Linked DNA regions of Homo sapiens: all the other regions are linked to region 2. Evidence: fine-mapped expression QTL. A gene starts in region 2. Each other region holds a variant in brackets. All regions are shown on one strand. Distances are between the middles of the regions.

Region 1 (2,761 bases), 130 kb before region 2:
CTATTTATGATAAACTCACAGCCAATATCATACTCAATGGGCAAAACCTGGAAGCATTCCCTCTGAAAACTGACACAAGACAAGGATGCCCTCTGTCACCACTCCTATTATTCAAAATAGTATTGGAAGCTGTGGCCAAGGCAATCAGGCAAGAGAAATAAATAAATGGTATTCAAATAGGAAAAGAGGAAATCAGATTGTCTCTGTTTGCATATGACATGATTGTATATTTAGAAAACCCCATTGTCTCAGCCCGAAAAACTCCTTAAGCTGAAAAACAACTTCAGCAAAGTCTCAGGATACAAAATCAACGTGCAAAACTCAAAAGCATTCCTGTACACAAATAATAGACAAGCAGAGAGCCAAATCATGAGTGAACTCCCATTCACAATTGCTACAAAGAAAATAAAATACCTAGGAATACAACTTAGAAGGGATATGAAGGACCTCTTCAAGGAGAACTACAAACCACTGCTCAAGGAAATAAGAGAGGACACAAACAAATGAAAAAACTTTCCATGCTCATGGATGGAAAGAATCAATATTGTGAAAATGGTCATACTGCCCAAATAATTTATAAATTCAGTGCTATCCTCATCAAACTACCATTGACTTTTTTCACAGAATTAGAAAAAACTACTTTAAAGTTCATGTGGTACCAAAAAAGAGCCCATATAACCAAGACAATCCTAAACAAAAAGAACGAAGCTGAAGGCATCACGCTACCTGACTTCAAACTATAATACAAGGCTACAGTCACCAGAACAACATGGTACTGGTAATGAAACAGATATATAGACCAATGGAACAGAACAGAGGCCTCAGAAATACCACCACACATCTACAACCATCTGATCTTTGACAAACCTGACAGAAACAAGCAATGGGGAAAGGATTCCCTATTCAATAAATGGTGCTGGGAAAACTGGCTAGCCATATGCAGAAAACAGAAACTGGACCCATTTACACCTTATACAAAAATGAGCTCAAGATGGATTAAAGGAGGGAGGAGCCAAGATGGCCGAATAGGAACAGCTCCTGTCTACAGCTCCCAGCGTGAGCGATGCAGAAGACAGGTGATTTCTGCATTTCCATCTGAGGTACCGGGTTCATCTCACTTGGGAGTGCCAGACAGTGGGCGCAGGTCAGTGGGTGTGTGCACCGTGCGCGAGCCAAAGCAGGGCGAGGCATTGCCTCACTTGGGAAGCGCAAGGGGTCAGGGAGTTCACTTTCCGAGTCAAAGAAAGGGGTGACAGACACACCTGGAAAATCCGGTCACTCCCACCCAAATACTGCGCTTTTCCGACTGGCTTAAAAAACGGCGCACCACGAGATTATATCCTGCACCTGGCTCGGAGGGTCCTATGCCCACGGAGTCTCGCTGATTGCTAGCACAGCAGTCTGAGATCAAACTGCAAGGCGGCAGCAAGGCTGGGGGAGGGGCGCCCGCCATTGCCCAGGCTTGCTTAGGTAAACAAAGCAGCTGGGAATCTCCAACTGGGTGGAGCCCACCACAGCTCAAGGAGGCCTGCCTGCCTCTGTAGGCTCCAC[C/T]TCTGGGGGCAGGGCACAGACAAACAAAAAGACAGCAGTAACCTCTGCAGACTTAAATGTCCCTGTCTGACAGCTTTGAAGAGAGCAGTGGTTCTCCCAGCACGCAGCTGGAGATCTGAGAACCGGCAGACTGCCTCCTCAAGTGGCTCCCTGACCCCGAGCAGCCTAACTGGGAGGCACCCCCCAGCAGGGGCAGACTGACACCTCACACGGCAATGTACTCCAACAGACCTGCAGCTGAGGGTCCTGTCTGTTAGAAGGAAAACTAACAAACAGAAAGGACATCCACACCAAAAACCCATCTGTACATCACCATCATCAAAGACCAAAAGTAGATAAAACCACAAAGATGGGGAAAAAACAGAACAGAAAAACTGGAAACTCTAAAAAGCAGAGTGCCTCTCCTCCTCCAAAGGAACACAGTTCCTCACCAGCAACGGAACAAAGCTGGATGGAGAATGACTTTGACGAGCTGAGAGAAGAAGGCTTCAGACGATCAAATTACTCTGAGCTACGGGAGGACATTCAAACCAAAGGCAAAGAAGTTGAAAACTTTGAAAAAAATTTAGAAGAATGTATAACTAGAATAACCAATACAGAGAAGTGCTTAAAGGAGCTGATGGAGCTGAAAGCCAAGGCTCGAGAACTACGTGAAGAACGCAGAAGCCTCAGGAGCCAATGCAATCAACTGGAAGAAAGGGTATCAGTGATGGAAGATGAAATGAATGAAATGAAGTGAGAAGGGAAGTTTAGAGAAAAAAGAATAAAAAGAAATGAGCAAAACCTCCAAGAAATATGGGACTATGTGAAAAGACCAAATCTACGTCTGATTGGTGTACCTGAAAGTGATGGGGAGAATGGAACCAAGTTGGAAAACACTCTGCAGGATATTATCCAGGAGAACTTCCCCAATCTAGCAAGGCAGGCCAACGTTCAGATTCAGGAAATACAGAGAACGCCACAAAGATACTCCTCGAGAAGAGCAACTCCAAGACACATAATTGTCAGATTCACCAAAGTTGAAATGAAGGAAAAAATGTTAAGGGCAGCCAGAGAGAAAGGTCGGGTTACCATCAAAGGGAAGCCCATCAGACTAACAGCGGATCTCTCGGCAGAAACCCTACAAGCCAGAAGAGACTGGGGGCAAATATTCAACATTCTTATAGAAAAGAATTTTCAACCCAGAATTTCATATCCAGCCAAACTAAGC
Region 2 (2,761 bases):
ATAATAAAAATAACTGTACACAAACTGAAACACATCAAATATGTTAAAACCCACGTGTTCATAAGGATATTTTTTAAAAACACTAGGCATCTTTGGAGGATGGAAAAGAATCACCCTATTATTCCAAAAGCTGGTAAATAAAGGAAAAGATTCAAGCATTTCCTAACTGAATTGTCCTCACGGAATGCAATTTAAAACTACAACAAACCCCAAAGCTACAAACCAATACTTGTAAGGTAGCCATATATGTATGCAAAAACAGAAAAATATTTGGAAGAATACGCACCAGGTTGTACAGAGGGGAAAGGCTGTACAGATGGGAAGGATGGTCAAAGGGGACATTAGTTTTTATGCTAATAGTTTTGGTTTTTGGCTTTTGGCTTTTTTTGAGACATGATCTCATTTTGTCACCCAGGCTGGAGTGCAGTGGCACTATCACAGCTCACTGCAGGAAGCCTCAGCCTCCCCAGCTCAAGTGATCCTCCCACCTCAGCCTCCCAAGAAGCTAGGACTATAAGCACATACCATTATCCTTGGCTAATTTTAATATTTTTTGTAGGGATGGGATCTCACTATGTTGCCCAGGCTAGAGTTTCGGTTTTTCAGACAAAGTGAATGTGTTCACGTATTTCTCCTGGAATTAAATACATTCTTTCTTTTTTAAGTCGAAGCTTTAGAGTCAGAGCCTCCTAAGTTCGAATTCCCTCTCTGACTTTTGGGCAGCCCCCTCTCTATACTTACCAGTATATCATTCCTCCTATCCATGAAGTTGGCAGTAATTATGCCTACTTCATAGGATTGCTTATTAACTACCTGGTGTGGATTAAATAAAAGAAGTGTTTAGCATGGTGTCTGGACCCCTGAGCACTTGGGAAATGTGGCTGCTATTGGGTCTAAAGGAAGAAGGAAACTAAGAAGGAATTGGAGGGAAGGAGGGAAAGTAGAGGGACTGGCCCTGCCTGGAGGCGAGGGAGACAGAGCCCTTTCTGACAGCCCCCATTGCCACCCACACAGCTGGAGCCCTTTCCCTGGACCCTCCCTCCCCAGCTAATCCCTCCCACTGAGGATGATGTGACAGAGGAGGCGGCCTGTGGGGTAAACCAAGGGCTGCTCTCCCTGAGCCCACCATTCCTGCCTTCAGGAGGCTTAGCAGAGCCACTGGTAGTTTGGCCAGAGGAGGGCTTGGAAAAGCATAAACGCAAACTTTGGCCACAGTAGAACCAGACCCCATGCGGCAGCTGAGGCTGGGGAGCCTCCAGGGTCATAACCCAGCACCGTGGTTCCTTCCCACAGTGTCTGAGAGAGCCAGACCCCCAGAACTCAGCATGTGCCCATGTGCCCTCCATGCCAGAGCTGTAGACCAACAAGAATACACATAATCATCACTAATAGGGTGGTTGTTCCTCAAATCAAAGCTTTAAAACCGTTTCTGGGGACTTACCAAAGCCATCCTTCCTTCAAGATGATGTCTTGTGTGTTGCTGACTCTGTGTCCAGCCTTAAATTAGCTCTGAGTTTCACTTTCCCTGTGACCCAGCCCATATACAACTATTTCAGAACATAGGCTGGGTGCGGTGGCTCACACCTGTAATCCCAGCACTTTGAGAGGCTGAGGCGGGAGGATCACAAGGTCAGGAGATCGAGACCATCCTGACTAACACGGTGAAACCCCGTCTCTCCTAAAAAATAGAAAAAATTAGCTGGGCATGGTGGTGGGCACCTGTAGTCCCAGCTACTCCAGAGGCCGAGGCAGGAAATGGCGTCAACCCAGTAGGCAGACCTTGCAGCGAGCAGAGGTCGTGCCACTGCACTCTAGCCTGGGCGGCAGGGCGAGACTCAGTCAAAAAAAAAAAAAAAAAAAAAACAGAACATAGATCAAGGTTCATGTAAAATTTTCCCTGTCTTCAAACAGGGGCAGAGCACATATCAAGTAGGCAAGGCGGCATGAAAATCAGCCAGACAGAAGAGGAATCAGAGCTCAGGATATAGATTGAGAAGGACTTAGTGGCAGTGTGGTCAGGGGCACAGCTGACAATCACCAAGTTTCAGGTGGAACAAGCAAGATCCAGTGGTTGTGGGGGCAAGGGAGGATATAGAGACAGAGACCATGGGGGAAAATTTCAAAAAGGAGAGAGGAGCCCCAGAGAGACTGAGATTCATGCCTCCAAATTGGGAATGATGGTTGCCGGGACAGGCAAACATTTCCACCAACCTCAAACCCCATGGCCCTAGAAAAATCGTATTATTGGAGGCACATTCCTCTACCCTGGAAACAGAGTGAGCCTGCTTGGACAGCAGTATAGAAACCACTCCCCTTTCTGCCTCTCACCCACAGTTCAGAAACACTCATTCCACACCAAATGGAAACCAAAACCCAGTACTGGGTGTGTAGAGGTTGCTTCTTTGAGGCACCTGCATGCTTATCTCACCCAAGCTCCAAATAAGTATCTCTTCTGTCATCTACATATAGTTGTCCGGTCCTGAGCAAACTGGACAGGAAGGGGTGGGTGGGGCTGGGGGGAGCTGAGCATCCTCACTGTGGGGCATGGGGGCGAGGACCAATAACTTACCCTCTTCAGGCTATAAACAAACAAACAAACAAAGAGCTTTAGTGTGGGGATGCAGATGGACTGGAGCCAGAACTGGAAAACTCTTTGGGAGCCACAGCAGTTCTGCATGACCAGCTACTCCCTCAGCTCACGTGGTCATGTGGTCTTGCTCCCATGGAGACGGCCTCTCTCAGCACCTCCACTCCATTCTCC
Region 3 (2,761 bases), 22 kb before region 2:
AAGTTTCTCAAAAGGAACAATGTTTCTCCGTGCCAGATCCTTTGCCTCATATGTTTTCACACAACAAGGTGTCTTGATATTATATACTTAAGATTCCTTACTGGGAGCAATTCTCACAGGTTTATACATTTTTTTAAAATTCTCATACAAATACACAGTAAGCAATACCAATGTTTTATTTAACTCATTAATAACAGAAGCAGAAATATGACATACCCAGTTAAAAGCAGAATGAAGGAAACGTATGTATGGATAGCCAATGAAAGGGGAAAAAACGAACACAGAGGCCAGGCACAGTGGCTCACTCCTATAATCCCAGCACTTTGGGAGGCCAAGGCGGACGGATCACTTGAGGTCAGGAGTTCAAGACGAGCCTGGCCAACATGGTGAAACCCCGTCTCTATTAAAAATACAAAAATTAGCTGGGGGTGGTGGCAGGCATCTGTAATCCCAGCTACTCAGGAGGCTGAGGCAGGAGAATTGCTTGAACCTGGGAGACGGAGGTTGCAGTGAGCCGAGATCCTGAGACAGTGCCACTGCACTCCAGCCTAGGAGACAGAGGAAGACATTGTCTCAAAAAACAACAACAAAAATGCAGAAATGAGACAATGAGACTGCCAAATTAGGTAGGTGCAGGCAAGTTCATATCCTCTAGGGCAGTGCCACTACATAACTTCTCATGTTCTCTTTTCACCAAGCATTTACATTGTCACTGGACAAAAACCATTCCCATCACTATCAGGGCAAGACATTTGCATCTTATCAGTTTTCTCCAAGCCATCATCTCCCAGGCAGGATTGTAAAAATGTCTGAATTGATGGAAAATAGTAAATCAAGCCCACTTAATCCAGATGATCCTCAGGGACCTTGTAAGACAAAGCATGGCAATGAAGACACATGGTCCTTTTTGTGCCTAACTTGCAGTGTGTAAAGAGGCTTTTTTTTTTTTTTTAAGACAGAGTCTTGCTCTGTCACCGGGATGGAGTACAGTGGTGCAATCTCAGCTCACTGCAACCTCCGCCTCCCAGTTTCAAGCGATTCCCCTGCATCAGCCTCCCGAATAGCTGAGGCTACAGGCGCATGCCACCACAGCCAGCTAGTTTTTTGTATTTTAGTAGACATGGGGTTTCACCATGTTGGCCAGGATAGTCTCGATCTCCTGACCTCGTGATCCACCAGCCTCGGCCTCCCAAAGTGCTGGGATTACAGGCATGAGCCACCG[C/T]GCTCAGCCGTAAAGAGGCTTTTTAAAGACAATTTTTCTCTCTTTCCTTTTTTTTTTTTTTTTTCCTCTGAGACAGTGTCTTACTCTGCCATCCAGGCTGGTGTACAGTGATGTGATTACAGCTCACTGCAGTCTTTTTTTTTTTTTTGCATAAACATTCTGATTTAATAAATGGTATGAATATATATTTTGCATACTTTACAATAAAGAAAATTTTGAAAGAAAATTGATCTAAAACTGTTTCCCTCCAATTTCCATGGTAAAGTCAACTGCATACAGTTCTTTCCATGTATAAGTTTTACATTTGTATTTTCTACAATTAAATAAATCTAAATGTTAAATTTTAGCACATATATCCAATTATGTACAAAATTACAATGTCAATTTATAAGTCAAGCTTACTTAAAAATCATAAATTACAAAAAACACATTATGAATAATTTTGTTCTGGAAGTATCATACCAACTCATACGATCTAGGTGAACCCAAAAGTAAAAAACAATGATTATAAATTACAGTAGTGTCTGTAAAACCCTGTTATAAAGGAGGTATTCTTTTAAAATATGTACCTTATATATAAAAGCTCCTGACTCCTTTTAAGGACCAAAATTATTTTCAGTTTAACCATTTTCATTAAAATGCTTATTTAAAAGTATCGCCTTATAAAACTGAGTATATAAAATACAATGCAGCCCTTGATAACTAAGAATCTTTATAAATGCTAATTATTTAGTGACCTGTTTATCAAACTATTTCTGTGGATGGGGTGATTTTTTTTCTTCCTCTAAATTAAGTGGCCCTAGACTAATATATTTATATAGTTATTCTGTTTTCTTCCGTACTGTCATTTCACATCTCTATCAGTGAGTTCCTCAGGATTTGCCTTTATTTTACAACTATGAAAGTCTTCAATCCAATTCCCTGCTTCCACACATAGGACACAGAAAGCCTAAACTTTCCTTTTTTCTGGGCTCCAATGGGAAGCAGCATTTACAACGTGTCTGGCTTGGTAGGAGGAAGATTGTCAATTGAGGTATCATGTGTGTTCACCTGCCTATCTTGCCCTATTTCTTTGGTTGCTGTAAATTTCCTGCTTCTCAAATATCTGGATTTTTGGCTACCTATTTGGCTTCCGTCTTTGGTGTTTATATCTGTCTGGTTTTAGCAGGTCTCTCTGATTCCTGACTCACAGCTCCTCTCCTTCACTAATATTCAAGTGTGCTGCTTGCCTAACTCCTCATTCCTTCTCCTTGAATTTCACTTTACAATTGCACTAGGTTCTATCATCGTTGGCCACAGATTACCACAAAACATAATTTCTTAAATTCTGCACATTTCTAATGCTTCTAATCTTGGTTTCCTACAAGATCTAACACTAAGCTTGTGTTATCCTGATTACAGTGTATGTAAAACAATGCTTGTGGAAAACTAACCTAGGAGAAAGCTTATAGGGGAAACCTGATAATGAATTTTATTAAATTAATAACCCTTATAAAAATTTCAAATGTAATACTACCTGGATTTGAACTTCAATACTTT

What was found. PIP is the estimated chance that this variant, and not a neighbour inherited with it, causes the effect.
Region 1: its variant is the best candidate, but not a certain one, in a credible set for the expression of PLAAT2 in whole blood (INTERVAL, PIP 0.66).
Region 3: its variant is the best candidate, but not a certain one, in a credible set for the expression of PLAAT2 in whole blood (INTERVAL, PIP 0.59).

What each region holds. Positions count from the first base shown.
Region 1 is chr11:63,434,302-63,437,062 of GRCh38, forward strand. No RefSeq gene overlaps it. Among named protein-coding and RNA genes, the nearest start is that of PLAAT5, 55 kb to the right of the region's middle. RefSeq lists enhancers at 716-1,268, 1,269-1,820. The variant C/T (reference allele first, on the strand shown) is at 1,552.
Region 2 is chr11:63,561,875-63,564,635 of GRCh38, forward strand. PLAAT2 (phospholipase A and acyltransferase 2) reads right to left here and starts at 1,505. Exons shown (of 4, transcript NM_017878.2): 1 at 1,442-1,505. The coding sequence starts at 1,450. RefSeq lists a silencer at 2,462-2,541.
Region 3 is chr11:63,540,259-63,543,019 of GRCh38, forward strand. All of the region lies in intron 2 of PLAAT4 (phospholipase A and acyltransferase 4), which reads left to right. Among named protein-coding and RNA genes, the nearest start is that of PLAAT4, 4.8 kb to the left of the region's middle. The variant C/T (reference allele first, on the strand shown) is at 1,223.